2 separate regions of the Homo sapiens genome follow, and region 2 is reported to be linked to region 1. Evidence: microRNA targets listed by miRTarBase, many of them from high-throughput screens and not tested one by one. Region 1 holds a microRNA gene; the other region holds the end of a gene's coding sequence.

Region 1 (4,148 bases):
CAAGGAGGGGCAACAGTGTGTGCAAAGGCCCTGAGGTGAGCGGGAGACCCTAATGTGCCAGAGGAGTGTCGGGGACCCAGGATGAGGACCAAGCTGAGACACACGGAGGGGAACAAGGAGGCTGGGAAATGCCTTCAGCTTGAGGAGCTAAGGGAAGGCCTCATCGCAGGCCTTGGACATGGGGGAGACATTCGGGGGACCTGCTATAGGCATTGTGGTCCCAGATTCTGAGCTGGTTTCACCAGTGACAGACTTTGCGGCCTGATCCTAGGAAGGGGGGTACGCTGGCGCCGAGGTGGCACTGCAGCTGCACAGCCAGGGGCTGGACCCCGCGCCTGCAGGCCAGGCTGGCTCCTTGACTTAGCAGGGAAAGGTCGCTGCTGATGCTGGCTGGGGAGGCCCAGTGCCAGGCTTAGTTGGCATGTTGGGGCACAGACCAAATGAAGCCAACCGCAGGGGCAGAGGGAGATGCCCAGGGCGCTCACATTTGAGGCACACACTTCATTAACCCTTTATTACAAGTCACGCTCTTATAGAAGTATATGTGGACTTACGTGAAAAAATCAAATGTATCCAAGAATAAAAAACACAGCACATAAAGTAGTATATGCATTCCAGTGTTCGCGCCAGAGACGGCGGGCGCCCAAGTAAAAGCTCTTCTAAAACGGCCTGACTGGGGCAGGCCGGGTGCGAACGGTTCCGGGCCTCAGGCACAGTGTGGGGGCCGCCTGCCTCCTCCGCGGCCCGGCGGGCGGGGGCAGCACCAGCTCCTAGGGCCTCCGGGCCAGCGGCGGACCCCAGGCCGGCCCAAGCCCGACGCCAGGCAGAACCCTTTGGGCGGGGCCGTATCTGGCCCTCCGGGGACGGCAGTGACGACACCCCCAGAAATGTGGGCTTCAGGGCTGGCCACAGGGTACCCTCAGAAGCCCGCAGCTTAGTCGGCCTTTTTCAGGAAGATCTGGAAGAGCCGGACCCAGGGTCAGCAGGGCCTCTGAGCTCCGCCAGGGTCTCCCTGGCTGCTCCCCGTGCCTGGCCTGGCCCTGCCCAGCCTCACCTCGCTCAGAATCACCCACACAGGGGAGTCCGTCTGGATCGAGAGGCGCAGTGCTTCCAGAGGGCCGAAGGCTGGGTCCACCTCTCCCTCTGCCACTCCCTTGTAGAAGGAGCCTGTGGGAGGGCAGTGGTGAGAGGGTGTCCCTGAACCCCAGCCCACGCTCTCCCCCAAACCCTACCCACCGATCTGGAGGTAGCCGTCGGGGCTCCGAGGGTACCGGAGGGTGGCGGTGCGGCCCTCCTGCAGGGCCTCCTTGTCTGACTGAGGGTTCTGGGGGCAGAATCAAGGGCTGAGGCAGGTGGTCACAGGAGGCCCGGCTTCAGTGCACACCACACCCACCGAACTTACGTCGAAGGGCAGCACCTCCACAGACGTGTTGAAGAGCTTGTCCTCCGGGTGCTCGATGTTCCCACTGCGGAAGAAGAACCTGCAGCCAGGCAGGCCTGTGAGCTGCTGCAGGGGCAGCGTTCCAGCACAGCACCCAGGGCCCAGCAGAGAAAGGCCAGGCCTGCGCCAGGAGGGCCCCCCAGGCAGCTGTCAGGCTGTGCAAAGAGACCAGGGCCTTCCTCTGGGAGGATGGTGACAGGAAACATCCCTGAGCTCCTAGGGGCTGCCTGACTTAGTCCTCACAAGGTAGCTACCATTACGAGGCCCACTTCAGATGCGGAAACTGAAGAACGTGAGGATAACTTGCCGGTGAAGCCTACACCCTGGGGGCCACCCAGCCCCGCCCCCATCGCAGACCCATGGTGCTGGCACTGACCGCTCCAGTCTTAGAGGTTGGAAGAAGCGGAAGCGGATGAAGTCCCCCGCGGCAGGGGTGAAGGCCCAGAAGAAGTCCTCGCGCAGGTAGGCTTTCTCCAGGGTGAAGTGCTGGTATGTCTTCAGGCTCGTGCTCACCTCTGCTGGCGGGTTCACATGCTCCTTCCGCAGCGCCTGCTTTCCAAAGTCTTTGTCCTGCAGCGGAGGAGGGACAGCAGTGATGGCGTGGGCCCCGACCTTGATCCCGGCCTAGGGAGAGCGTGCAGTGCAGCCCACCTTCAGTTTCTGGATCTTGCCAGCCAGCGAGGAGTGAGTGCCCACGTGCTGGAAGAGGGACGGTTTGAAGCGGATCCGCAGGTTGGCTTTCTGCCGGTCACAGTGCTTCTGTGGAGGGTGGGCAACACCCCAGGGCTCGGCTTAGCCCTCCTTCCTCAACACGGCCTCTCCTGGGGACTACCAGGGCCCTCCCACAGCTGACAGTGCTCTATGTGAGCAGATGCAAGGACAGGGACACAGTTTGGGGTGGAGGCTGCCTGCCCCTTGGCCCTGCCCCTGCCAGTCCCGCCAGCTCTTGCTCACCGCATCCTTCTCGGGGTTGCAGACTTTCACCCACAGAATATGGTCCAGGAGCCAGTCGATGGGCTTGTCCCGGTAGAACATGAGAATGAACTCTACAATCAGGCTCAGGTCCAGCGACTTGAACATCTTACCTGGTGGGGAGGGGCCTGAGTGGGCAGTGCTGCTCTGCCTACTTCCTTTCTCCCTGCAGCGGCCCCCGAGTCCCACAGCAAACCCAGGGGCAGGCTTCAGGCAGGTGTGGGCATAACGGGGCAGGGAGGCAGACAGGTGATGAGGGCAGACATGTCTGATGCACAGGCAATGAGAACAGGCCAGGTGGGGCTGTAGCACGCACACCAGGCAGGGCCCACCTGGGCAAAGGCTCACAGTGGACACAGTGGGACTGGGAGAGAGGATGGCAGAGGCAGGTGGGACTGAAAGGCACCGTCAGGTAAGGGGAGGGGCACACCAATGAAGCCCAGCTGGGAGAACTCCAGGATCATCCAGTCCTCTGAAGGCTGCTGCAGTGCAAAGTTCTTCATGGTGCTCAGGTAGTTGGGCTTGGCCACGATGTCATCCTCCAGCTGCGAGGTGAGCAGAGAGGGGCTGGGGCTGAGGAAGGGCACCCAGATGGACCAGACCCATCGCAGGGCAGGGCGGCGCAGGGCAGGGCAGGGCAACGCAGGGCTTGGGGCTGACCTGCACGTAGTAGATGCCTTTGGACTGCGCGTACATCATGAGGAAGCAGTAATCGAGGTTCTGTTTGGTCCTCCACCTGTGGGCCGGGGCGGGGCCTCAGAAGTTCAGACCCCTCCACCTCCATTGTGGCTCCGCAGAGAAGCCGCTGGGTGGGCAGCTTCTGTCCCCCCACCCCCATGCACGGGTCCTCCCATGGAGAATTCAGGGCACTGCAGGGAAACACCCTGGACTCAAACACCAGTAGATGGGTTCTCAGCACAGGCAGGCGGGTTGCTGAGGGTATGGGGGAGTAACTAGTACCTGACTCTCTCCTTGGGGTCCCCAAAGGACTCTCGGAGGCGGGAGAAGTCAGGGTAGAAGTGGGGGGAGGGTGAGATGACCTCCAGGAGCCCAGAATGGATCTCCGTGGGGAACCTGGGGGACGGGAAGGCCTAGTCCGTATGCAGCCTCCAGGGGCTGAGAGGGGCCGAGCCCACCAGACTGTGGCCCTTTCTTGAGGCTCACCCAGTGCCAGCCCCCCACCACCCCCTACACCCAGCCAACTGAGGTAGCAGAGCTCCAGAGGGGCTGGGCCACTTCTGCACACCCACCCCTCCCCCACCAGGTCCCTGCCTCCCCACGAGATAGGAAAGGCACTATCTCATGGGGAGGCAGGAACCTGCCAGCACAACACCCCGCACCGAGCTCTCCCGCCACCAGCTCTCTGGGGTCGCCAGTACTCACAAGGCCTTGATGTTCTCTGTCACTGCCGAAGTGTACTGTGAGTCAGTCTGTGGGGAGACCAAGCACCCTCCCTTAGCCCTGCTGCTGCCCCAAAAGGCCTGGAAGGGCTTGGAGAAGGGGCACAGGCTTCAGATGCCCCCCACGTGGAGGGAGTGAGCCTGCTGTGCTGAGGGCGGAGTAAGGGGGCCCCCAGAGACGGCCCTTTCCCTTTGGGACTCGCATGGCCAAGGACTAGGGGGTGGCGGGGGCGATGGGTAGGGGTAGAGGGTGCCAGAAAGCCCTTTCAACTTTCTATCTCGGAGCATTTGCGAATGAAACTAGCAACTGAACTTCCGACAGCTTTCTCCTCGGA
Region 2 (4,000 bases), not on the chromosome of region 1:
TCAGAGGAAGCAGGACATTGTGGAAGCTTAGCCGGCTGGAAAGGTCGGTTGTAAAGTTGAGATTCTGTGCCTTTGCTCATTACAGAGCTGCCTGCGCGTCTGGCACTGCAGTTGGGGTCTTTCCCTAACACTCCCCCTCCTCCCCTAGCTCAGTTCGGGGCCTGGGGCAGAGGGGGATGCTCGCTGGGGACTAGGCCAGGAGGAAGGTGCGGGCTCTGGGACAGCAGCCTAACGAGTGCCCTGTCTACTTGTCTGTCCTTGTGTTCATGTGTCTGCATGTCTGTTCTCAGGACCTGACAGGAAGCGGGGCCGCCAGACCTACACGCGCTACCAGACGCTGGAGCTGGAGAAGGAGTTCCACTTCAACCGCTACCTGACGCGGCGCCGCCGCATTGAAATCGCCCACGCGCTCTGCCTCACCGAGCGCCAGATTAAGATCTGGTTCCAGAACCGCCGCATGAAGTGGAAGAAAGAGCATAAGGACGAAGGTCCGACTGCCGCCGCAGCTCCCGAGGGCGCCGTGCCCTCTGCCGCCGCCACTGCTGCCGCGGACAAGGCCGACGAGGAGGACGATGATGAAGAAGAGGAAGACGAGGAGGAATGAGGGGCCGATCCGGGGCCCTCTCTGCACCGGACAGTCGGAAAAGCGTCTTTAAGAGACTCACTGGTTTTACTTACAAAAATGGGAAAAATAAAAGAAAATGTAAAAAACAAAAACAAAAACAAAAAAGCAACCCAGTCCCCAACCTGCACTCTACCCACCCCCATCACCTACTCCAGCTCCCAACTTTTGTGGACTGAGCGGCCGCAGAGACTGGGTCGCCTTGGATTCCCTCTGCCTCCGAGGACCCCAAAAGACACCCCCAACCCCAGGCCAGCCGGCCCTGCTCTGGCGCGTCCAAAATACTACCTAGCACAGGCCTCTGCTCGAGGCACCCCCAAACTACCTATGTATCCAGCCCCAGAGGGCCTCCATTCCCAGGAAGTCCCTATGTATCCCAACACTGGCAGACACCCAGCACCACCCTCCCAGACCCGCAAGAAAGTGAATCTCACTACTACCTACTCCCCTAAAACTACCTATTTTGTGCTGGCTGGCTTGCCTGCTACCTAGTGCCGACTGCTCCCAGGCAAGTCCCCTGCTGCTTACAGCCCGCAGCTTTTGGGGTCCCTGAGGCTGCCCTGAGAATGTGCTGAGGTCCAGGATCAGGGTATTGGCATCTATTTAAATCGAAAAATAATATATTTATTCCAAAAAGCATCCTAAGTGCTTGCACCCTAGAATCAATCCCTCCTTCTCTGGCTTGGCACCCACAGCTCAGGCCCATCAACCCCCACTTCTGGAGGGGAATGTTCCTGAGCTGGCTGCAGATCTGTGGGTTAGCTTCTGCTTAGCAGGACTGTGGAGATGCTTCCAGCTTCGCTGTCCTTTCCTCTGGCTCCTGTATCTTACTGTTCAGCTGTGTTAAATATGTACGCCCTGATGTTTCCTATAATAGCAGATACTGTATATTTGAACAAGATTTTTTTTTATCATTTCTATAGTCTTGGAGTTCATTTGTAAGGCAGTGTCTTGACTTGGAAAGGATGTGTTAATGGGGTGACTTTGTAGCATGGTATGTTGTCTTGAGTTAACTGTAGTGGGTGGGGAGGTCCAATGCCCTCCGCAATGCCCTTCATCTCCTGTGTTGTCCTGTACCCTGCTCAGCTCCATCCTGGGGTTCAGGGAAGGCACACTTCCCAGCCCAGCTGTGTTTTATGTAACCGAAAATAAAGATGCGTGGTGACAAAGAAAAATGTGGACTGCCTTATCCAGAGGGGACTGGGAAAGGGGAGGTGAGTATGGCTGGAGGGCAGGGGGCAGTGGGGAAGCAAAAGTGGGGTGGCTGTCCTTGTGATGGTCCAAGTGTTGGGTACCCATGTATTGGTGTCATGTATCTTTTTAATGTATTTTTATGTGTGTATTTGTATGAGTATGTGCTTATTTTTCTGTGTATGTATTTCTGTGTGTGTGTTTTTACCTAATTCCACAATTGTATATATTTTGGTGTCCATAATTGGGTGCATGTGTTTTTGTGTGTCCATAATTGCATGTCATTCTGTGCCCACAATAGAGTGTATGCCCTTCCCTGTGTGCATAATTGTATATGTGCCTTTATCCGTGTAGAGACGTTTGTCTGGTTTTTGCGTGTGCACTAACATCTTCTAGATCCCTTGAAAACGGAATCTTTGGTAGATACGTTATATTCTATGAATCTACCTAAAAACCTCCATCAATTCCATGAGGAAATTTCAAATCCACACTTTCCTCTAAGGCTGAGCAGTGGGCTTGGAAAGGGGCATTACCCAGAGCTGATTCCGGATTCGCATGCGCCCTGAACCCAGCCCCAGGCTAGGAAATGGGATTTAAGGTCCCCACCCCGCCTGCAGACCAGGCGAGGGGGCCCCAGGGTCCGGCACTGCAGTAGGTGGCGCGGGGAGGGGCTAGGACCGCAGACCCCCGCTAGGCTACGCAGCCTGGGCAGGGGCTGGGGCAGCTGGATGCGGGGAAGGGGCGAGGGGTGAAGGTCCAGGGGTTGTGCGGGCAGCTCAGAGCATCCTGAGTTCCGCCTGCAAGACCTCGTCTCCAGTCTCCTGCCTGGGCTGGGCCCGCTTCTTATGGCTCTTTTAGTAAAACCTGGCCCAAAAGGGTCTGTAAAACCTGAGGCCCCAAGTCGGGGCGGCCTCGGTGGTAAGATGGCGCCGGTGTAAGAGCTGCCTCCTCTCAGTGATGGGGAAAGGGTCATAAATCCGTTGTTGTTTATGAAAATTTACAACTTTGCAATACAACTTTATGAGTTGTTCGGCCCTTCCATTGGCCGCTGTCGGTCATGTGGATGAGAACCGTGAACATGAACTTTTTTATAATTTCCCTTGCGAGAATAGAGCCGCATTCTTTTGCTCCGCTCCGTCCTGCCTGCTTCGGAGCTCTGCCTTCCAGCCGGGCTCGGCTGTGCTTTGTCCGGAGATGGCGAGCGAAGGGAAGCCCCGGCCAGGCCAGGCCTGGCGGCTCCCGCTGGAGATTGGGCGCGCTCCGTTCCCGGCGCCGCGGCAGCAGCTTTGCAACTCGCAACCTGGCTAATTTCCTGCGTCCTCTGGCACCAGGAAAGAGGACAATTCTTCTCTCGGGCTGCCCAAGCGACAGCTGTCAGAGGGGCAGGAGCTTCTGGGAGCCACCGTCTGAAGGTGAGACATGTGGGGAGGAGATAGGAGCAAAGGTGGTGAGGCGACAGCCGGCGGCGGTAGCGGTGGGAGAGGGCACCCAGGGAGGCTTTAAGAGGGGCATACTCCCCCTTACCCATACTCACCCATTCACACTTGCCCCCATCACACACTACAGCCCACACACGTCACACACACAGGCACACACGCGCGCACGCACACACACACACACACCACTCCCTTTCTCTCCCCTCCCTGGCTCGCCTTGGCAGTAAGTGCCCGCCTTCCTTCGGCCCTCCGTGGCACAGCGCCAAGGCACAGGGCAGCATCCCTTGGGTCGTCTCTCTCCCCTTCCCTAGCGACCCCGTGAAGCCCAAAAGGAAGTGGCCCGGCACACTGTGTTCCCCGCCAGCCCTTTGGGTTTGGATTTTTGTGTTTTCATTCATGGCCCTATTTGGTTTTGTTGGATTCCCCAACAAGAGGAGACCATCCTTGACCTGGGAAGGTGGGAAGAGGTGAGGGCAAAGTGCATTAATCCACAGGCATTTTATTAGCATCAGCACAGCACTTTCTACTCCGTGGGAATTGGTTTCAGAGAGAAAGGTAGAAGGGGGAAACAGAAAAACTTACTAATTCAGCCAGAGTTCTCCGCTCGTTGCCGGCTTCCCTTCGCCCGGTTTTTCGATGAGAGAGGTGTCTGAAGCGCTGGGAGGGGGAATAGGTGCGTGGGTGGAATTCTGTGTTGGAGGAGAGGATGGGATTAATTGGGTGTTACTTGGTGGGAAGTTTCGGTGCAGAG

Evidence for each region. Region 1 holds the annotated microRNA hsa-miR-1229-5p (GUGGGUAGGGUUUGGGGGAGAGCG, at 1,213-1,236, opposite strand). A microRNA usually pairs through its seed, bases 2 to 8, with sites in the 3' UTR of a target mRNA and lowers its output. Matches are read on the target gene's strand: a 7mer-m8 pairs with bases 2 to 8, a 7mer-A1 pairs with bases 2 to 7 and ends in A, and an 8mer does both.
Region 2: miRTarBase lists HOXA7 as a target of hsa-miR-1229-5p. Seed matches in the 3' UTR shown: 7mer-m8 at 755-761.

Annotation. Positions count from the first base shown.
Region 1 is chr5:179,797,111-179,801,258 of GRCh38, forward strand. MIR1229 (microRNA 1229) reads right to left here and starts at 1,236; the gene lies at 1,168-1,236. It overlaps MGAT4B (alpha-1,3-mannosyl-glycoprotein 4-beta-N-acetylglucosaminyltransferase B), which reads right to left. Exons shown (of 15, transcript NM_014275.5): 5 at 3,797-3,843; 6 at 3,374-3,487; 7 at 3,074-3,149; 8 at 2,844-2,958; 9 at 2,396-2,526; 10 at 2,093-2,200; 11 at 1,818-2,011; 12 at 1,403-1,481; 13 at 1,237-1,324; 14 at 1,055-1,167; 15 at 500-958. The coding sequence ends at 935.
Region 2 is chr7:27,151,513-27,155,512 of GRCh38, reverse strand. HOXA7 (homeobox A7) reads left to right here. Exons shown (of 2, transcript NM_006896.4): 2 at 291-1,797. The coding sequence ends at 604. It overlaps HOXA3 (homeobox A3), which reads left to right and starts at 2,930. Exons shown (of 6, transcript NM_153631.3): 1 at 2,930-3,225. HOXA-AS3 (HOXA cluster antisense RNA 3) reads right to left here. Exons shown (of 3, transcript NR_038832.1): 2 at 3,832-3,938; 3 at 1-3,219. RefSeq lists an enhancer at 410-994.